Linked DNA regions of Homo sapiens. The protein of the gene in region 2 interacts with the protein of the main gene of each other region in a pairwise test. Each region holds a gene or a part of one and is shown on either strand. Other genes may lie near its edges. The genes, in order: SMARCA1 and BPTF.

Region 1 (11,670 bases), on a different chromosome or scaffold from region 2:
ATGCATTGGACAAATATTCTTCCCTTTAAAGTGTATTGACATATTACACATTTCATTAATGTGTAGCATTTATTCATATGTCCAAAGAAGGAGAAAGAAACAAAAATACGTCAATCTGGCTTTGTGACTGGATTTCTCTCAGGTCACAAAGCCACAGTGGTATTACCACTGATATTTTCACCTCATAAATAAATATTTCTAGCTTAAAGCACTTTATTATGGGACAGAGAGCACCGAACCAAAATGAGATGTGACTTCTAGTCCTAACTATGACATATAGCTTCCCTGATCCTTTATTTCCTCATCTGAAAATGAGGAGGTTAATTTATTCAACAGAAAATATTGTGATAGATTGTATATTAAATTATTTTCCAATTCTAAAATCAATGATTCTCTATGCATTATATATATACATGTATTTTTTCATCTTTAACATCTCAACTATAAAAATTAATTACAGCATTCACTATCCTATCCAAGACTACATTTACCATTTTCTCTTCATATTCTGGGTCCATTTCCTTTTCAGATTTAGGCGCTTTAGCAGCAAGTTTGAGTTGAAATGAAGAAACGTTTTTCTAGAATTTCAAAGAAAATAAATGTCACCAAATTGCAAAGCAAGGTTCTTAAACTGGTCAATGCTCTCATTAGAAGAAGGCGGAAAGTAATTACATAACTAAATATATAAATCAATGTGGGACATGTATGGACCAATGATGAGAGCATGTCACAAAACAAGGCTTATGATTAATCCAGTTCTGTACACCTGAGGTCCAATAAAAAAAATCTGAAAAATTGTGAATGCCAAAGAAATATTAATTGGAATAAAACCCAAAAGGCAAGACACTGAGCTTTCTCATCCATTCTTTAATTTATAGTGTAAGAAAATGTGTAAACATTAAATAAGAGATTTTAAAATCTAGAAAAGGCTAATATCAACCACAAACCAAATAATTCAAAGAAAGTAAATATTAATTCTAAGAAACACTCCTTTATGTCATGGAAATACGCCACACTTTCAGAAAAAAAAACTGTGGTTTCTGTTCCTAAAACGATATTTTTAAAATTGTTTTCATAGTATTATAAGAATATTTAATTTTTTATGTAATGCAATGTGATCACATATACTTAATATAATAGTACAGTTTTAAACTTTTGGCTTATGTTAATTTTCTCTAACTGGGAAGAAAACTACTTTAAACTATTTATATTGCATAAACATCTTGTAGAAGCAATTTGTCAAGGCTACTTAACTATTAATGTTTGATATTTTTAAATTGTAATTTAGCGAAAACTAACATCAATCAATAACTTAATATAGAGATTATCTGGGGAAGGGGGTTATCTCATGCACCCTATCCTTTGTAAAGACAAGCCTGTACTGGCAAATATAAATACATATATAGAATAAGCCTCCTTCCCTATAAGAAACCAAGAAATAAAATAATAAAAACACAAATCTACCCACCAGAACCAAAGATGAGAGCATTTCAGTTTTAACACATACTTTGCATAAGAGAAAACACAAATTTGTTCGTGAAAACTATCATGGCTTTTGTCAACCTATTTATGAAAACTTAGGTCAAAAATCAACAGAATGTGACCTTAAACATAAGAAAAATATGGCCCCCATTATGTCTTCCAATATTTACTAAAATTTCTATTTTGAGGAAATCCAAACTGAGATTATGGAATTTGACCTTGTCCAGACTCTTACTTTGTAGCACTGATCAGATATCATTCAGTTACACTAACCCAAATAATAACCATCTTGATTTACAGCATCTGATACGTACACATCTATATGGAATGTTTTGAATGTAATCCTGGATGGATGAGAATAGAAAACTGCTAAAGAGCCCCTCAAACTCACACTTTCAGACTGCCATATATAATATAAATCATATTTATTTTCAAAGCAACAAGAAAAATTGGGTATCAAATCCATACGTTTATCATTCATTCCTTGAAAGGTTATATGAAGTGCAGTTTTCCAGTATCAAAACAATGAAAATTACTTTGCCTCATACGCACAAATATATATAATAATGTGGGAAGTACACTTACAGAAAATTAAAGCTTTAATCCTAGAAAAACATTTTACCCATTACTTTTTTGCTTACCTTGCGGTAGACTACCATCAAAATCTAATTATATGCTAATTAAAATCCTAATCTTGAGCAGGGCTATTAAAAGCTGTGGGTAATTACTTAATTGGCACTATCTTCCACAACAAATTTTAAAATACCTACCTTCTAAACCTTCTCTCGTGTGTGTGTGTGTGTGTGTGTGTGTGTGTGTGTATTCTCAAAACTACATTTTTTTCATACAAGAAAAGATGAAAAGTGACTAAGAGACTCTAATGAATTCCTTTGGATTTTGTTATCTGAGTCTAGGTGCCATGAGAATGCAGCACAAGGTCAACAAAATGGCTTGTTTTAAAGACCATGACCTTTTTCTTGACGTTTTCATGTCTACAGTGTTGGGTAATCCAACCGTCACTTAAACCAACTAAATTCAACAACCAGAAAGTAAGCAAAAACACCTTTGAGTAGGTAAATGTCACAGGTCAATTCACTAATTCTCATCTACTGTATTCATCATGAAAGCGCTCTCATTCAGAAACCTATTTTCTTTTTATTTGGTAGACAATTCCACCAAGTTTGAAAATCTGGCTTCCCATGTCACCGAGAATACAAGCAACAGTAAATGACATGGAAAGATCACTAGATGAAGGCACTCTACAAGAAGACACGGCAGAAACCAAGGACGAAAATGTCTTCCACTGCAGTAGCATCACTGATTCTTGGTGTGCACGTGTCATTATTTCCCTCTCCCTGTTTTATCACTGACACTTTTGTATTTTACAGTGGTTTTCAAATGAGTTTATGGTTTTGTTACACCTATAATCTTTATCATAAACTAACATATTATTTCTGGTGAAACTAGAGGTGTTTAAAAAGTGATCGCTAACAGCCTGGCAATTAAGGAAGAAGACAGAAAATTTTTATTTATTTATTTATTTTGAGACGGAGTCTCACTCTGTTGCTCAGGTTGGAGTGCAGTGGTGGGATCTCGGCTCACTGCAACCTGAGCCTTCCGGGTTCAAGCGATTCTCCTGCCTCAGCCTCCCAAGTAGCTGGGATTACAGGTGCCTGCCACCACACTTGGCTAATTTTTTTTTTTTGGTATTTTTAGTAGAGACGGGGTTTCACCATATTGGCCAGGCTGGTTTCGAACTCCTGACCTCAAGTGATCTACCCGCCTCGGCCTCCCAAAGTGCTAGGATTACAGGCGCGAGCCACCGCGCCCGGCTGGAAAAATTATTTTTAAAAATCAACACAACACTGCAAGAGTCTGGTAGGTGGTTACTTAATTGAGAGGGAACAACCTGCGGGATTTCAGGTGCCTTTGTGTCACTGTCAAAGTACACTAACTGATGGCCATGAAGAAGAGGTTAATCTGCACTTTTAGTATGCAATTTAAAGTGTCAAGGTAGTATGTAATGTATTTCATTTTTTAAGGAAAAATTAAAAATAAAAATGGATATCCAGGAAGTTCCTGACATACAGCACCTCATTTCCCTGTCCTGGGTGGACAAATGAAGTACTGGTAGGGCAATTTCTAATGAGGCAAGAGTTGACAAATATGTAGGCATCAACTCAGTGTTTATATTATATAGCTTTTTTATTGGTCTCCCGTTTTTTCACAATACAAAATTTTATACAAAATTCAAAAATTTATACAATCTGGAAATTCGACAACCTCTCCTGCCATACAAAAGGCAGTTTGGCACTCACATTTGCCCAGTCCAGGGAATAAAAGGCACACAGACATTTCCGAATTTCACAACATTTGATTTATATTGATGCTTGGTATTACACCCACTTTTAACCAACAATATTGTCTTACTAATCCAAGTACCGCGTAGATCTTACAATGTGTATGTTTTCTACGGTTTTCATTTAGCACTACAATTGTCCTTCTGTTTAGTCAACCTTGTAATAGTAAAATATGTCACAGAAGCAACTGCTAAATTTAAAATTACTCTTCTCATTTAAGGCGAAAGGTGTTCATTTTCCTCAAAAGCTTTTCATTTGGTCGTATAGTATCATATAATGATTCAGACAAAGCCACTTGAGATCTCTAAAGCATAATTACCCACCTTTTTAAAATTGCGATATGACTACTCGTAAATAGGAAAAAATCCACACATAAACCATTAGTTATGCAATTTTATCATACATCAAAAATGCTTATGCCCCATCCTATTTTTATGTCAATTTTTCAACGTTTTATAGTTTTATTTGCATGTCTCGGGCCACACGAAATGTGCCTTATGGAGATAATACATATTTTCTGGATTGGCTTTAATATGTGTCAGAGCAGTTCCCTTACGTTAGAAGCAGCTCATCTTGGCGACGCTGAGTTTTTTAAAAATTAAAGGAGAAAAAAAAAAAAAACCTGTGTGTGTCCAGGAGCCAGCAGCGCCCACTAGGAGAGGGAGGCGGAAGCCTGGAAAGCTTGGGGCCGGATTGAGGGACCATTGGGGTGGCCCTGGAGTGAAACCCTATACCGTCGGGGGCGGGGCAGAAGAGGGTGAGGGTGCAGATGTTGGAAATTTTCCTAAGCCAGCGTCCACGGTTCCTCAGTTTGGGGGGGCGGGGGGGTACGACGCAGAGAGCTCCTTTCCTCGGGGTGACACCCCCACCTCGGCAGGCGGGGTTCAAACGAACAAGGGATGGTTTTTTTCCTGCCATCCAAAAGACCGACATTGCCAATGAAAGAAAGAAATGTCTTCCCTGTCACCCTCCACCCAGCAACCACCAGCACCTTGAAATTCAAATTACAAAAAAAGCCCCAGCAAAACCCCTTTAGCGCGAGTGTGGGATTGAAGGGCCCAGATTTCCCAGGCAGAGGCCGACGGGAAGGCGGGGGGAGAGGGAGCGAGCGAGAGGAGAGGGAGAGGCGGAGGCTTTTTCCTGCACAGCCCCATCCCCCACCCCGTTACCCGAGTTCCGGGAAGGTGGAGGGGGTCGGGGGCTGTCGAGGGGCTCCCGAGCCCCCAGGCCCCGGGAGAGCGGGCACCCCTCCACCCCGCGCCGCTCCCGCCCGCGCCCAGCCCCGCCCCCGTCCTCCAGGCGGCGAGAAGGAAAGGGGGAGGGGAGCGAACGCCAGGCGGTTCCGCCGCCGACCCCCGCACCCGCCGCCCCTAGCCCCGCAAAGCTCCGCGGGTACCTGTCGGCGCCGAAAGGTCAGGGTTTGGGCCCCTCAGAGGGGCCAGGCACAGGATTTGTCCACCACACACACACCCCCTTCCTATTTACCTCCTTCTTCTTCTCGCCCTTCTCCGTGGCCGCGGTGGCTTCGGTGGCCGCGGCGGCCGCTCCCTCCTCCTGAGAGGTGGACGGCCCGGGCTGCTCGTCCTCTATGACCACGATAGTGGCGGTCGCATCCGCGGCTGCCACGGTGGCTGCCACTGCGGCAGTGTCCTGCTCCATGCCGTGGGAGCGGGAACGAGTAGGGGGACAAGGCAGGGGACGAGGGCTCCTGGGCGGCGGCAGTGGCTGCACTGGAAAGAGCTAGATGGAGCAGGGGTGGGGAATCACTCCGCTTCCAACCCCTTCGCTCAGGCCCCCCCTTCTTTAAATAACCCTCAACCCTGCCCCACTTCCGTCCACCCACCCTACGTCATGGCCTCCCCCCGTCACTCTCCCCCCTTCCTCCACCCCCCCCCCCTCAACGATCGCGAGACTCCCCTTCCCCACCCAGAGCCCGGGCCGGCCCCGCACGACCAACTGTTGCCTGAGTGTGGGGCGCGGACAGGGGTGGAGGCGGGAACCCACAACTCGCGGCCCCCTGAAAATCTCCTTTCCCACACGCCCCCAACAGTGAGCCTGAGCTCCCCTCGCAGATGCGTGCAGAACGAATCCTCTTTCCCTTAAATCTGCTCTTTGTACCTCGGGGCGCTCTCCCCTTCTTGCACAAAGAACTTTTCCTCTGCTCCTAACTGTACTGTAGAAGGTCTTTTTCACCATTTGCAAAGCGCGGAACCCCTCTGGGACTGCCCTTTCCCGGATCCCTAAAGAGGTAGGATTAGCGGTGCTGTTTCCACCTTCCTAAATTCTGCACAAAGAGAAGCACTCCTTGAATCTCTTGATTGCAGCTGCAAACACATTCACTTACAAGGCAAAGTCTGACTCTCAAGTTTTACGTATATTTGCTCTATTTTCACCTCTGGTACCTCTCAGGTAGCCAATGTGCAGGAACACTTCTCTTACCTTCACCACTGCATTTTTAAATTCCTAGGGGACAAGGTTACCCACCGAACCTGGGGCAACATGTGGTAGGCACTCAATATTAGCAATTGAAATGAATTACTGTGATTTTTTGGCACAGGTTCTATTTGCACCTCCATTATTATTTGGTAATAATACAACACATAATATGAATGATCATGGATATAAAATCATTTCGTGATACAGAATCAATCAGTGTCCATCAGCAGGTGAATGGTTAAGGAAAATGTGGTCTGTATACACAATGGAATACTATGTAGCCATAAAAAAGAATGAAATGTCATTTGCAGCAACATAAATGAAACTGATGTTTATTATGTTGCACAAAATAAGCCAGGCACAGAAAGACAAATAACACATGTTCTCACTCATATGTGGGAGCTAAAAAGTTGATCTCATGGAGGTAGAGAGTAGAATGATAGGTACCAGAAGTCTGGGAAGGGTGTGTGGGGTTGAGGCGGATCAATGAAGAGAGGTCAGTTAATGAGTACAAATATACAGTTAGATGGAAGGAATAAGTTATAATGTTCAAAGTAGAGTAGGGTGACTCTACTGAACAAACAATGCAATGTATATTTCGAAATAGCTAGAAGAGAGGACATGAAATGTTCCCAACACATAGAAATGATAAATACTTGAGGCAATGGACACCCTAAATACCCTGTCTTGAGAAGGACCCTTAAGGACAGCAACAGTGGAGGATTTATTTTTCACCATGTTGCAGCTATTGAAAGATAGAATTCCTCTTTCCTTGCATGGGGCTGCAAAGGAGAAAAGCTCAAGAAATATTTGTTGTGTATTGGTGTGTCCCTGCTTTCAAGTCAGTTTTGTTCCACTGTATTTCTCATTGTCAGTGTACATTATTTCAGTTACATCGTGGGTTAAATGCACTTTTGTGAGGAAATCTGGGAAACACATCCCTTTATAACACCTTTTTTTTGTGGGGACATGTGTTCCATGTTCCAAAAAAAGAATTTAAAAATTTATTTGGGGGCAGAACATATTTGTACGTTGGCAATTTTCCATGCATGTATAATGCAATCCTTCCTTTTCAAGATGACGCGGCTGAAAGTGCTACCAAGTATATGAATTTGGCTGGAAAGGTCGATGCTTGGTCAACAGACCTTGCCACAGGATTCATGTAAATATTGCCCTTTGGCTTGTGGCAACAGCTGCTATTTACAGAGCATGTGCTATCCTTATTTGTAAATCTGCCTAAAATTCATGATCTGTAGACTTTGTTCAACAAGAGTCATCTCATTTCTGAGCCTACTCAACACCTTGCTCTATCTGCTACTACTTTCCCCAATTATGTCTTTTCATTTGAAATGGTCTTGGATTGCTCTATTCCATTGGGGTTGGAGAACAGAGCAAACTTTTATAAAGAACTGGCTCTCACGCCTGTAATCCCAGCACTTTGGGAGGCCGAGGCAGGCTGATCACAAGGAGATCCAGACCATCCTGGCCAACATGGTGAAACCCCTTCTCTACTAAAAATACAAAAATTAGCTGGGTATGGTGGTGCGTGCCTGTAATCCCAGCTACTCGGGAGGCTGAGGCAGGAGAATCGCTTGAACCCAGGAGGTAGAGATTGCAGTGAGCGAAGATCAAGCCACTGCACTCCAGCCTGGCAACAGAGCGAGACTCCGTATCAAAAAATAAAATAAAATAAAAATAAAAATAAACTGGGAACCTCAGAACTAATCTTGGTCTACCAGTCAATACGTCCATTTTGGTAGATTATAGAGGTTATTCAACAATCATTCTCGAATAGCCAAACTTGTTTAGTAGCTACTAGAACATGTGTCCACTGGTGATATTAAATGTTTTACAAAATTCATAAAGGAAAAGCCAAAGGCTTCGTGTTCCTTCTCTTATTTTGCATCTGAAATTTGTCATTGAAACCACAGTATGACTTAAAACCACATTGTGATCCGACTGATTAATGTTCTTCAGAAACTGGCAGAAAAGATTCTGGACACACTGTCTTGCTTACAGCTACAGTAACCATTCTGTTCATATCAGTAAGCTTTCTCACTATTTTTTTAAAGACATTTATGATAGTGGCATTTTTGAAAATGTGATATTTCCTTGGTGATCTGTATTTTAAGGAAAAGGTCATGGTAATAACTAGTATATGTCTACCATTTCTTGAGCACCCACTATTGTATTAGGCACTGTGCTAGATTCTTTACATATGATATTGCTAATCCTCCAAATAATTCTATGAAATAAATATTATTATCCCTATTTTACAGATAAGAAAATGGAGATTTAGGCTAAACAACTCATCTAAGGTTCCACAGCTAGTAAGTGACATTCAAACCCCAGACTGTCTAGTCCAAACCTCGTTTTTCATCTTTATTAAGTTCACTGGTCTTCACAGGGCTTCCTCCTTGACAGTAGAAATTATACTGAGAAAATAACTGAAAAATATTTCTGCCATCTATCTCCATGGTGTTCCCTCTAAAGCAGCCGTGTCCGACCCTTTGAATGCAAGAACTTTTTTGCCTATCTGTGGTGGTGGATATCATGAAAATTCGGCATGGACCTTTTTTTTTTTTTTTTTTTTTTTTTTGAGTATCAGCTATCATTGGCATTAGTATTTTATGTGTGGCCCAGGACAATTATTCTTCCAGTATGACCCAGGGAAGCCAAAAGGTTGGACACCCATGCTCTAAAGTAAACTCTCAAAACAGTAATGGGACTCAGGACAGTTTGTGCAAAGAAGGGGAGAGCGTAACAGAAAGAACTGAGATGTCCAAGAAGAAAGGATTGGCAAAACATTGTATAGTACATTAATAAATGGAATGTTATGCAAGCATTAAGAATGATTATGTGTTGACTAGACGCGGTGGCTCATGCCTGTAATCCCAGAACTTTGGGAGGCCGAGGCAGGTGAATCACAAGGTCAGAAGTTCGAGACCAGCCTGGCCAACATGATGAAACCCCATCTCTACTAAAAATACAAAAAATTACCTGTGCGTAGTGGCGGGCGCCTGTAATCCCAGCTACTAGGGAGGCTGAGGCAGGAGAATTGCTTGAATTCTGGAGGGGGAGGTTGCAGTGAGGCGAGGTGGCACCACTGCACCCCAGCCTGGGCGACAGAGTGAGACTCCGTTTCAAAAAAAAAAAAAAAAAATGAATGATTATGTAATCAGGTATCTGTTGACATGAAAATATATTCCTGTATATTGTTAAGTGAAAACATACAGGCAAAAAGTTAGAATGATCCCATTTTCACCACACACACACACTGAAAAACACTATTTACATAAATGTATTTCCACAAAGGACAAACCCTGGAAGGTTCTACTCCAAATGTTAAACCAGTAGTTACATACAGCAAGGTGGTGGGATTGTGTGTAATATTTTTTTCTTATTTTGCTTTTCTATTCTAGTTTTCCTCAATGAAGGTGTTTCTTTATGTAATAGATAAATACCATTTTATAGATGAATCAAAACGTATTACTCAAAACTGAACAAGTTGAAATTAATCCTTAACAGAAGGAGTATGACCTTGTAGATAGGGTGAGTCAAAAACAAAAACAAAAACAAAAAAACAAAAAAAAACAGGCCAGGTGCAGTGGCTCACGCCTGTAATACCAGCACATTGAGAGGCCGAGGTGGGTAGATCATGAAGTCAGGAGTTCGAGACCAGCCTGGCCAAGAGGGTGAAACCCCGTCTCTTCTAAAAATAAAAAAAATTAACTGGGTGTGGTGGCAGGCACCTGTAATCCCAGCTACTTGGGAGGCTGAGGCAGGAGAATCGCTTGAACCCGGGAGGCGGAAGTTGCAGTGAGCCAAGGTCACACCACTGCACTCTAGCCTGGGTGACAGAGCAAGACTTCGTCCCGAAAAAAAAAATGAACAGAACAATTTCACACAGAAGAGACAATGCAGTAGTAATGTATAATGTAGCAGAAGCAATGTGAGTATTATACGGTTCACAATAATGTTACTTGATTGAGGAATGATTTTTGACATTGTTTTAGGCGGTATATAAAATGATTTTTCTACTTTTAAGCAATTTTGCAAAACTAGCTCAGGAAAAAAAATGAGATTTTCTTTCTTTCTTTTTTTTTTTTTTTTTTTTGAGACAGAGTCTCGTTCTGTCGCCCAGGCTGGAGTGCAGTGGCACAATCCCAGCTCACTGCAACCACCACCTCCTGGATTCAAGCGATTCTTCTGTCTCAGCCTCCCGAGTAGCTGGGACTACAGGCGTGTGCCACCACGCCTGGCTAATTTTTGTATTTTTAGTAGATATGGGGTTTCACCATGTCGGTCAGGCTGGTCTGAAACTCCTGACCTCTTGATCCGCCCGCCTTGGCCTCCCAAAGTCCTGGGATTACAGGCGTGAGCCACTGCGCCCAGCAAGATTTTCTTAAATGCTCCCAACCCTGACATTCTACCCACCCATACATGCCCTAAAACACGAAACACATGCTAAATAATCTGAATTGGGTTTGCTAAAGGCCCAATATTTTTTCACTATTTAATACTTTTTATTTCCACTTAAATAAGTCAGAGTTAGTTTCTATTACATGCAAGTAGAAATTCTCATGGATGCACATGTTACCATTGATTTCCATGTATTTACTATGTATGTAAAGGCACAATATTATCCATGGCGGTATTATTAGAGGCAAAATAGTACAATTATTACCAGCTTTGGCTGTAGAGTCAGAAAGACTTGGAGTTCAGATTCTACTAAATTGTTTAACCTCTCTCTCCTCTGATTTGCATCTGTAAAATGGGTATAATAATACCTAATTCAACGTGATCTCATGAGGATTTAATGTAAAATATGTGTATAAAACATTTAACATGATCCCGGCATATAACAGATACTCAGTGGATGGTAGTTAACAAAAAGAAAAAAGCAGGGTGCTGCTTTGAGTTTTGGCTAAGCCAAGGAAAAAGCCAGAATATGATAAAGTAAGTCTGAAAGTCAGTGCTAAACTAAAATAGGAATAAGGCGGAAGTGCTGTTTGCCAAGTTCATTTTCTCTGTTCATTATCATTTATCAGGGTCAGCAATTTGGTGCAGTTACACTTCCCCAAAGGTAAGTTCTGAAGAAAGGCAGTAATGAGGGAGAAGAGGGTTAGGCTACTTCTCTACTTAGACTGTGACTTTTTTGAGGACAGGAGTCATACTCGATTTGTCTTTGTTTAAAAAGAGGCCGGAGGGGCCAGGCACGGTGGCTCATGCCTATAATCCCAGCACTTTGGGAGGCCGAGATGGGAGAATCACCTGAGGTCGGGAGTTTGAGGGCAGCCTGACCAACGTGGAGAAATCCCGTCTCTAATAAAAATACAAAATTAGCTGGGTGTGGTGGCGCATGCCCATAATCCCAGCTACTTGGGAGGCT
Region 2 (11,196 bases):
ACTTAAATTACAATTTGTAGCTAGGTGTCCTTTAAGAAAAATGTGTTTACTTTTGATACTTTTGTGACATTTTGTTTTTCTTTTTTTGAGAAGGAGTTTTGCTCTTGCTGCCCAGGCTGGAGTGCAATGGCACAATCTTGGCTCACTGCAACCTCCACCTCCTGGGTTCAAGCAATTCTCCTGCCTCAGCCTCCCAAGTAGCTGGGATTAAAGGCATGCAGCACCACGCCCAGCTAATTTTGTATTTTTAGTAATGACGGGGTTTCTCCGTGTTGGTCAGGCTGGTCTTGAACTCCCGACCTCAGTTGATCCACCTGCCTCAGCCTCCCAAAGTGCTGGGATTACAGGCATGAGCTACCGTGCCTGGTCTGACATTTTGTTTTTCTTAATGACACTTGTGTCTACTTGTCTTATCCTTATATGAAATTATTAACTCCTTAGAGATAAGTATTGAGCTTATTCCCCCTGCAGCTCCTGTAACAGAGTTTTGCACATAGCAGGTGCTCATCAAAGATTGGTTGGATAAATTATTGTTAGTAGATAAGAACTTGTAATAGATGAAGTTTTGATAACTCTACAGTGGGTGTCATAATCTCTAAATACTTTGGATTTAGGAAACTAAAAATTGGTCTAATTGTTTTTTGTTTTTGTTTTTTGTTGTTGTTGTTTTTTCTAATTGGTTTTTGATGGACAATTTGATCAGTGAATGTTTTTTTTTTTTTCTGTGAACGTTTTTCATTGCAAGAGTTACTTTGTTTTTGAGTTGCTATTTCATATTGCTTGCCAGGCATTTTCCTTTATTGGCTGTGATGTTAATTTGGATGCTTTACCTTTTGCAACACATTATTTTTAAAGATTATGGTAAAATAGATGTGACTTTTTTTTTTCCTTATCTCTTCTAAAAAAAAACGGGATACATGTGCAGAACGTGCAGGTTTGTTGCATAGGTATACGTGTGCCATGGTGGCTTGCTGCACTTACCGACCGGCCCTCTAAGTTCCCTCCCCTTGCCCCCCACCCCCCGGATGTGACATTTTGAGTTCTAAACTTTTAGAACATGCCCACTTGCCTGGAATGAGTAACAATGCATGACAGTGAGTTGATTAGGCTAAGTACCAGTTTCATTGGTTTTTTAGTCTGTACTTCCTGGAGGAAGGCTGTCAGGTAAATGTGTAGATAGAAGAAAAAAAGTTTTAGAACTGGTTTAAGATATCCGAATAACACATAAAGAAGTATGATTGATGAGTTTGAATCCTGTTGTACTGTGAAGGCTGAAAGAGGAATTTACCTTATTGGTAATTTAGAGTAATTTGATTAATTTTTATAGTTTACAGGGTTGGTTTAAGTACTGACGTGACATTCCTAACATAAGAAATAGCTCACTCCTAATACAAGAAATAACTCAGTATTTTGTAGGTAATGTAACAATGCAAAGACATTAGTTGACATTACTAAAGTCATGAAAGGTTTATTCATTGAAGATTGTTTTCCTTTTATGGAAAAAATGTAAGGATGCCAACTTTTTAGTATAAAATTGAAATCACCTAGTTTTGCTTAAGCTAAAGGCATATCGCTGAATAATGCTTTAATTCATTTTTACTTTTTAAATTTAGACTTACTTCAGCCTATAGGTTTTATGACATTGCCAATATACTGAGAAGGATTGTATAGGAAGTGTTTTCAATAGGCATTTGGTAAGGTTCTGACAGCACTTTGAAATTAAGCATTTGCTAATTTTAAGAAATTATATTTAAAACAGAATGGTTCTTGTGTTGCAGTCTCAGTCTTGTGTGAGACTTCTGAGAATACTTACCTGGAATTTTAAAACTTGGAACCTCTGATAACTTCATGAAACAAAAACCCTGGTGTTACCCTGGGAGAGTTAGTGATTTATGTCCTCTAAGGATTGTGACATTGGAGATCAGTGGCAGAGATGCCATGAATGAACCATAGATTCAAATTCAAGCAGAATTTGTCACTGGTTTGACAATATTATTCCTATCAGTGTCAATATCTTTTCAGTATAATTTCTGATTGCTGCATGCGAGGTACGCAGTGCAGTGGGCATTTTAAGGAGGGCGAGATAATATACCCCATTTAAGGGGATTGATGTGGGCATACACTTCCTGGATGGGCATGTGGAGAGTAAGGAAAGGCAGATTGAGGGAGGGAGGGAGGGAGAGGGAGCGGGAGCGGGAGGGAGCAGCAGGCACTGATAGTAAAGTGTGGGCAGTCTCAAGTAACTCGGTTTAGCAAGAGCCTGAGTGTGTGAATAGGAAATAAACCAAAGCTCCTTTGTATGCTGTGTTGGGCAGTACCTAGAGGATCAGGCTATAGCAACTGTACTTTCCCCCTTTTCTGTAGAATAGGGATTGGGCTGGATTGTGATCCTCAGCCCTTTTTCACTCCTGAACACCCAGAGGAGTTATGTTGTATTCCCAGCAGCACCATGCACAAACATGAAACAGAACCATATCAAATCACAGAGATGCTGTTGAACCACTGGTGTAGCTGTTTCTCCCAAATTGAGAGAATTACTGGGGAAATGGCCTGAAGCTCTCTCTCTTTCACATCTGTTTAATTTTGGGTATTGGGATGATCGGAAGATCTTGAAAGAGTGGGGTATGATTTCAGAGGGATGCCACGAAGTATAGCTTAGATTCTCTTCTGCAGGATGGATTGACAAGGACGAGATAGCTGGTGGGTTTTGTAGCCCTGGATGGAAGATCAGTCCAGGAGGCACTTTAGAGTTCTTCAGGCCTTGACACATAGATGTGTAGAGAGAGGAATGCATTACATATGCCTCCCTAAGAATGGTAGCACTTTCAGTAACAATGGGGAGGTCAAGATTATAAGGGAAATTAATGACATCTGTTTTCAGTTATCAGCACCTCAAGAGGTTAAACATGAGAATTAAACAAAATGAGAGCCAAAAGGGTTATGAAAAAGTTGGGCAATATGATTTGTGAGTAGTAGAGAGGTGTGTCCTAGGTATGCATTAATAAATAGTCTTGCACACAGTTCGTGCTTTTCTATTCTGCTCACCCACGGGCGTGTTTGGAAGTTTGTATTGAAACATGCGTATCACAGGACTGGGGATGTTAAGACCAGGAACTCTGGTCTCTTCTGTTAGGTCCTCCTTTCCTCTTTCCTCAAGACCCTGTGTCTTCCCTTTGACTAAAGACCCTTAATGGTGGAGACATGGGGGTGAGAGACTGGTAGTCATGGTGGGCAAGTAGTATTCTGGGTGACACAGGAGCAAATCCTAGCTGATGCCCTTTTCCCTTCCTGCTCCTTAGCCAGGCTGGAATCCCTCTTCCTGGGAGATCTTCCCTGAGTCCTGTTTTGCACCTTGGTCTTCCTTCTCTTTGAGTGCCTGCTTACGGTGGTTATGATCTCAGCACTAGCTTAATGCTGACACTGATTATTCTAATTTTATTTATTTATTTATGAGACAGAGTCTCACTCTGTCACCCAGGCTGGAGTGCAGTGGCATAATCTCGGTTCACTGCAACCTCCACCTCCTGGGTTCAAGCGATTCTCCTGCCTCAGCCTCCCGAGTAGGGGACTACAGGCGCCTGCCACCACGCCCGTCTAATTTTTGTATTTTTAGTAGAGACAGGGTTTCACCATATTGGCCAGGCTGGTCTCAAACTCCTGACCTTGTGATCCGCCTGCCTCAGCCTCCCAAAGTGCTGGGATTACAGGGGTGAGCTGCCGTACCCGGCCTCTAATTTTTTTCATGCTTTTGGTTTTTTAAAATGATAAGCCTCAGGAGGCAGCATGTTTCTTAATTTAAAAAAAAAAAACCACTTATACATTAAAATGCACTTTAAAAGATCGAAGGTGACCGTATAGAAATAATTAAAATGCACGTAAATATAATTATAATGTTTTAATTGTTTTGTCTGCTGGTATATATCTAAAATTTTTATGTTTTTCTAGATAGTAAGTTATATTCAACTATTATTTTGTGATTGTCACATTTTAAAAATAGTGACAGTAATAGCTAAATTTATTGGACATCTTCTGAATTGCTGAATGATTTTCAAGCAATATTTATGAAAATTCAGTTTTTAAAAGGTAACAGCTGTATGGAGATATAATTTATATACTGTAAAATGTACCCTTGTAAAGTATATAATTTAGTGGTTTTTTTAGTATATTGACAGAGTTGTGCAACCATTAACACTACCTAATTCCAGCACGTTTTTATACCCCCGCAAAAGAAGCCCGCACCGTCAGCATCACTCCCTGTTCTTCACCTCCCTCCTGCTCATCCCTGGCAGCCACTAATCTACTTTGATTCCCTGTTGATTCGCCTCTTTTTTTTTTTTTTTTTTTTTTGAGGCAGAGTCTCGCTCTGTCACCTGGGCTGGAGTGGAGTGGCGGGATCTCAGCTCACTGCAACCTCCACCTCCCGGGTTTAAGCGATTCTCCTGCCTCAGCCTCCCAAGTAGCTGGGATTACAGGCACCTGCCACTGTGCCTGGCTAATTTTTTGTATTTTTTTTTTTTTTTAGTAGAGACAGGGTTTTACTATGTTGGCCAGGCCGGTCTCGAACTCCTGATCTTGTAATCCACTCGCCTCAGCCTCCCAAAGTGCTGGGATTACAGGCGTGAGCCACTGCGCCCCGCCTGATTTGCCTCTTATGGACATTTCTTATAAAGTGGAATCATATAATATATGTCTTCCATCATTTAGCCTAATGTTTTCAAGCGTTATGCATATCTTAACATGTATCAGTACTATATTTGAATAACACTTCATTGTATGGCTATACAGCCTTTTTTTTTTTTTTATGGAGACAGGGTCTTGCAGTGTTGCCCAGGCTGACCTCAAACTCCTGGACTCAGGCAATCTTCCTGCCTCAGCCTTCCAGCCTCCAGAGTAGCTAGGATTACAGGCACACATCTCTGTGTCCAGAGACCATGTTTTGCTTATCCATTTCTTAAGTTCATGGACATCTGAACTGTTTCCACTTTTTGGCCATTAGGAATAATGCTGCTGAGCACATTCGTGTACATGTTTTTATCTGTACGTATGTTTTCATTTCTCTTGGGTATATAACTAGGATTATTTGCTGTATTATTGCAAATTCAGTTTTAATTTCTTTCTTTTTTTTTTTTTTGAGACAGAGTCTCTTGTCGCCCAGGCTGGAGTGCAGTGGCATGATCTTGGCTCACTGCAACCTCTGCCTTCTGGGTTCAAGTGATTCTCCTGTCTCAGCCTCCTGAGTAGCTGGGACTACAGGTGTGTGCCACCATGCCTGGCTAATTTTTGTATTTTTACTAGAAGAGGGTTTCACCATGTTGGCCTTGCTTGTCTTGAACTTCTGACCTCAAGTGATCCACCCGCCTTGGCCTCCCAAAGTGCTGGGATTACAGGTGTGAGCCACCGTGCCTGGAAGAAAGTAATTCAGGAGTTAGAATGAATCCTTAGTGATAGATTGGTTAGGCTGGGATGTGGTGAGTGGGAGAAAAGGATTCAAGGATGAACTGACTTCTGAATCTCCCTTATTTCTCTTTTCCTTATTCACTCCTTATTTCTTCTCTTCATCTCGAATGGATCTAGTAATACTGATTTCTTTGTAGTTCTCACACACCTAACTCCTAGTCATCCATCCATCACCTTCTCCAGCCTGCCTTCTCTGATCACCATTCCCTTTACCGCCAGGTGGGGCTAAGTTCCTGTGTTTCCCACCCGTATAACCTCCAGGACCATGTGCATTAAGTGTTTTAGTTTCCAAATATTTGGGAATTTTTTAGCTATCCTTCTGTTACTGATTTCTAATTTAATTTCATTTTGTTCAGAGAGTATACTTTGTATGACTTTAATTTTATAAAACATTTTTAGAGGTTTGTTTTGCACCCCAAAATTTTGTCAGTCTAAGTGAATGTTCCATATGTACTTGAAAAGAATTTTGTATTCTGCTCTTGTTGAGTGGAGTATTGCATAAATGTCAATTAGGTCAAGTTTGTTGATAATGTTACTAAGATCTGTCTGACTTTCTGCTTGTTCTGTTGATTACTGAGAGAAGTCTTGAAGTCTGCAGCTATTGTGAAGGATTTGTCTGTTTCTCCTTGAAGTTCTAGCAATCTTCATGTATTTTGAGGCTTTATATTCATGTATTTTGAGGCTCCTTCCTAAAGTCCATAAACCTTTAGGAAGGATTATTTTATCCTCTTAATTATTTAACCCCTTTATCTCTATCTTTATCTGTTAAGACATGGAGCTGAAATGGGCTTTTAATATCTGGCCCTTCTTTAATTACAACCTACTTTGGGCAGGGACAGTCTCATTCAGTCTCTGTAGTGCCTGGTTCAATCTCTTGAATGCAGTAGGCAGCACAAGTAATTGTGGAACTGAATGATGAGTCAAAGAAAGCCTGTGGATTCTTTTCACGCTCTATACTGTCCAGTATGGTAGCCACTAGCCACATGTGGAGAGTTAAATTAATTAAAACTAGGCAGGCCAAGCGTGGTGGCTCATACCTGTAGTCCCAATACTTTGGGAGGCTGAGGTGGGAAGATCACTTAAGGCAGCAGTTGAAGACTAGCCTGAGCAACATAGTAAGACACTGTCTTTACAAAAGAATTAAAATAGTTTGGCAGAGGTTGGCATGCCTGTAGTCCTACCTAATTGGGAGGCTGAGGTGGGAGGATTGCTTGAGCCCAGGAGTTAGAGGCCCTAGTCAGCTATGGACCATGCCACCACACTCCAGCCTGGGTGACAGAGTGAGAACCCATCTCTTAAAAAAAAAATTTAAGTAAAATGAAAAGTTAGTTTCTCCTGTGGCACTAGCTGTTATATGTTCATTTCAAGTGCTCTATAGCCACATGTATTGCACCACACAAATGTAGAGCATTTGGGGCATTTCATATCATTGCAGAAAGTTCTCCTGGACTCATTGTAGTCAGTCTGCCTCTGTTAGACCAGGGGGAATTTACCTAACATCTCTTTTTCTCTAGCCTTTTATTTGCCCTAAATCCTGCACAGCTTGGGTAGCCCCAGCACTCTGGCTGAGTGAAGTCCTCCTTTGTGGAGACTCTGGGCCCAGCATTATTTGTGTATGTGATGGTATTGCATTTCTGCAATAAGATTTGGGGTCATGTGTGAGATGACTTTCCATTATTTGTTGTCCTTGGTGGTAGGGTGAAGAGGAAGTTAACATGTGATTAGAAAATCTGCCACAGTCCTGGTAATTTTTTTTTTTTTTTTTTTTGAGACGGAGTCTCGCTCTGTCGCCCAGGCTGGAGTGCGGTGGCGCGATTTCGGCTCACTGTGAGCTCTGCCTCCCGGGTTCACGCCATTCTCTTGCCTCAGCCTCCCAAGTAGCTGGGACTACAGGCACCTGCCACCATGCCCGGCTAATTTTTTGTAATTTTAGTAGAGATGGGGTTTCACCATGGTAGCCAGGATGGTCTTGATTTCCTGACCTTGTGATCCGCCCACCTCAGCCTCCCAAAGTGCTGGGATTACAGGCGTGAGCCACCATGCCTGGCCCAGTCCTGGTAAAATTAAGCTAAAAGTTATATATATAGGCCAGAAGAGAAGGAAGGATTAGGATTCAGAGACTTTTGGTTGAGAAATTAAATTTGATAATTCAGAGAATTTCAGTGTTATAAAAGTGTAAAAGCTGATATGCAAACTGAATTGCGAGATGTTAGTATGTCCTAGTGTGTCTGGGTTCTCCTGTATAAAACGTCTTAGGAGTCACTGGCCAAATTATTTATCTATGGAACCCCCTGAGATTTGCTAAGAAAGTTATACTTAGACTTCTTTCTACTCATGGATATGTTCTGTAATTCACACGCTTGGGAAACGGCATGGCCATGTGATTCATACCAAATGGCAATGTTCAGTAGGTGCAGTTTATATATTTTACTAGAAATATGGCTTCTTGCTCGATTTCAGTATGTTCATAGTGCCTCTTTTGAGGTCTGTGTATAGTATATAGTATATTCTATTTATGGAAGTTAAGAAGTATTTCAGAAATGCATGTATTAATCTGTGTGGAATTTCTCTTGTCCTGTTCTAATTCTTGCATAGATACTTGTCTCAAGAGATGGTCCAACATTTAAAATAGTGAATGACATCTTAGCTCATCCTAAAACAATCCTTTCTAAAGGTTTATGAACTTATTCATAGAGCCTCAAAATACATGAGGACTGATAAAACTCCAAGGAGAAACAGACAAATCCTTAACAATATCGTAGACTTCAACACTCTTCTCACAGTAATCAAGAGAACAAGTAGGCAGAAAGAAAGTGCAGTTTTCTGTTTTTGTAGACAGCAAAATTATTTCACACACTTCTTAAAGTCTTATTCAGTAAGTTACTCATTTCTCCACCTTATGACTGTACTGTGCTTTCAAAGTGCTGTGCAAAGAGTAAAATGTTTTAAGGTGGTTTTACTGTAATTTCACATACATATTTGAACTTTTGAGTCTGAATTATCCAGGTGAAATGCATTGGATTTCTGATCCTCTGTAAACTTGGAAGATTACCTTCTTCCAGGTATATTGGTTTTCCTTAATTGCTTTAATAGCATGAGTTGTGAATCTTCTCTGTGTCTCAGAAGAAACCTAACAGTGGAGATTGTTTATGGCAAGGGTCACAAATTTACATGCTCAGGTTAGGACCCTCTTTAAGGTAAAGACATGAAGTGCCCCCCTTTTTATTAATACATAACTGCATTTGCTGATAATATTGATTTGCCTTAAAAAAACTAGTCCTATTGAGAATTCAGGCTCTTTTTGCGTTTACAGACAGTGCTGTCCTGAATGTGCTAGAGATGTACCTTTAGTCACTTAAGCTGGTGTTTCTGTAGGGTAGATTCCTAGGACTGGGATTGGATTGTTGCATTATAGTGTGTACCATTTAAAAGTCTGGACCAGATTATACTCTCAACATCTGTTTTTAAACCTTCCCTAGTCTGTGCTTATGTGTTTTGTTTTTTTTTTTTGAGATGGAGTCTTGCTCTGTCGCCCAGGCTGGAGTGCAGTGGCATGATCTCAGCTCACTGCAACCTCCACCTCCTTGGTCCAAGCAGTTCCCCTGCCTCAGCCTCCTGAGTAGCTGTGATTAAAGGCGGACGCCACCACGCCTGGCTAATTTTTTTGTATTTTTAGTAGTGACGGGGTTTCACCATGTTGGCCAGACTCATCTGGAATTGCTGACCTCAGGCAATCTGCCCACCTTGGCCTCTCAAAGTGCTGGGATTACAGGCGTGAGCCACCGTGCCCAGCCTATGTGGTTTTAAATTAACTTTTTCTAGAATCTACTAAGGTTTACTCAGACCTTTAGCAGGTGTTCTTGGATACTGACTAGGCCCAGAGTCCTCTTCTCATCAATTTATTGGCAAATACACTCACTTGCGATGTGATATGAGACCCTGAGTTTTACCTCCCAAATGGCAGGATGTCTGTTTTGAGAGTTTCCTGGCCAAGTGGTGGAAAGTACCATGGAAATGGAGTTCTTCATTGCTTCTTACTTAACTTGAGTTTGGACCATAGAGAAGTCATTCTTGTGTGGACCTCAGTTTACTCACCTGTACAGTATAGGATGGACTAGATGATCTAATGGTCAGGGGACTGGCAAACTTGTTCTTAGGTTACCAATTAGTAGATATTTCAGGTTTTGCAGGCCATCTGGCTCTGTCACAGCTGCTCAGCTCTGCCCTCATAGCAGGAAAGCAGCCATAGACAATAAGTAAACAAATGAGCATGGCTGCTTTCTAATAAAACTTTATTTACAAAAACAGGCTGTGGCTGGCCATAGTTTATTCACCCCATTTTTGAGCTCTTGACATTCATTAGTCTGTGATTTCGATAATTCGTTTAGGAAAAAGGCTTTGAGTTTTACAAATAATGCTTCTGAAAATCTAGTAAAACCTTTAAATTTTATTTTTGCTTCTTCTCTTTATCAGGAAAGTAATGTAGAACATTTAGAAAACCCAGAACATTAATATTTTGGTTCCTCTCATTAGTTAACCATCTTTGTGTAAACATGTGTATGTACATACTTTTTTTTTTGAGCTGGAGTATCGCTCTGTCACCCAAGCTGGAGTGCAGTGGCACAATCTTGGCTCACTGCAACCTCCACCTCTTAGGTTCAGGTGATTCTCTTGCCTCAGCCTCCAGAGTAGCTGGGACTACAGGTGCTCGCTGCCATGCCTGGCTAGTTTTTTATATTTTTTTAGTAGAGACGAGGTTTCACCAGCCCAGGCTGGTGTTGAACTCCTGAGCTCAGTCAGTCCTTCCTCCTTGGCTTCCCAAACTGTTGGGATTACAGGCGTGAGCCACCACACCCAGCACATGTGTGCATACATACTTTTTACAAAATTGGAAGAAGTATAATTCATTTGCTAAATATTTTCACTTATGCCATGAAATCAGATTTTATCTTTGTGTATAAAAATACCTGCTCTGCTGGGGCTTCTAGTTGAAAACTAATGAATTTTAAAAATTAATTTAGTATTTAGCCACCTATTCTTTTTTCTAATTGTTTCTTGTAGCTTTTGCTTTGATTGGAATAATTTTACTCTAGGAATAAAGTTGTGTCATCTGCAAAAATGAATCATATGTACACATCTGATTTTCTTACATTTGTATCTCCTTTTTCTCTTCAAATTACATTGCCCTCTACCATTGATGGGAACCTGGGTAATAAAAAAAAAAGAAAAAAAAGAAACAAATTGCATTGTGTACCACCTCCAAAGCAATGTTAAATGTTAGTTATAACGATAGGCATCTTAGTATGCTTTCCGAATTTAATGGAACTGATGCGAATATTTCATGGTTAACTGTGGGTTTGAGACCTTCAATGTGTTGAATGTATTCACCTGGTTCTCTTTTTTTTCCTAAGTTTTTTTTTAAAAAAAAATCAGCTATGGCTATTGTATTTTGTCACATGTCATCTTAGCATCTTTTAAGATGATCATATAGTTTTTCTCCTGCAAGCTACATATTAATTACTGTGGTGTATATTCATAGAATTATATTAGATCTTATAATATTGATCCACCCTTACATTCCTGCAGCAAACCTCTCTTGATCCTACTTTTTCATGTACTGTTTGACTTTTAAAAAGGTATTTTAATTTTTAAATAGTTTATACATGTACAGTGCATAATGTATTTGAGATTCATCTATGTTGTTGTGTGTATCAGTAGTTTCTTTATTGCTGAGTAGCA

The links.
Region 1: the proteins of BPTF (region 2) and SMARCA1 interact in binary tests that used the Homo sapiens proteins (3 or more experiments, as listed by UniProt).

What each region holds. Positions count from the first base shown.
Region 1 is NC_000023.11:129,517,870-129,529,539, forward strand, and holds the start of SMARCA1 (SWI/SNF-related matrix-associated actin-dependent regulator of chromatin subfamily A member 1), read right to left. Parts: upstream 5,622-11,670; 5' UTR 5,502-5,621; coding exon 5,328-5,501; intron 779-5,327; exon of another isoform or gene 707-778; intron 579-706; coding exon 492-578; intron 1-491.
Region 2 is NC_000017.11:67,828,459-67,839,654, forward strand, and holds part of BPTF (nucleosome-remodeling factor subunit BPTF), read left to right. Parts: intron 1-11,196. UniProt on the Homo sapiens protein: Regulatory subunit of the ATP-dependent NURF-1 and NURF-5 ISWI chromatin remodeling complexes, which form ordered nucleosome arrays on chromatin and facilitate access to DNA during DNA-templated processes such as DNA replication, transcription, and repair.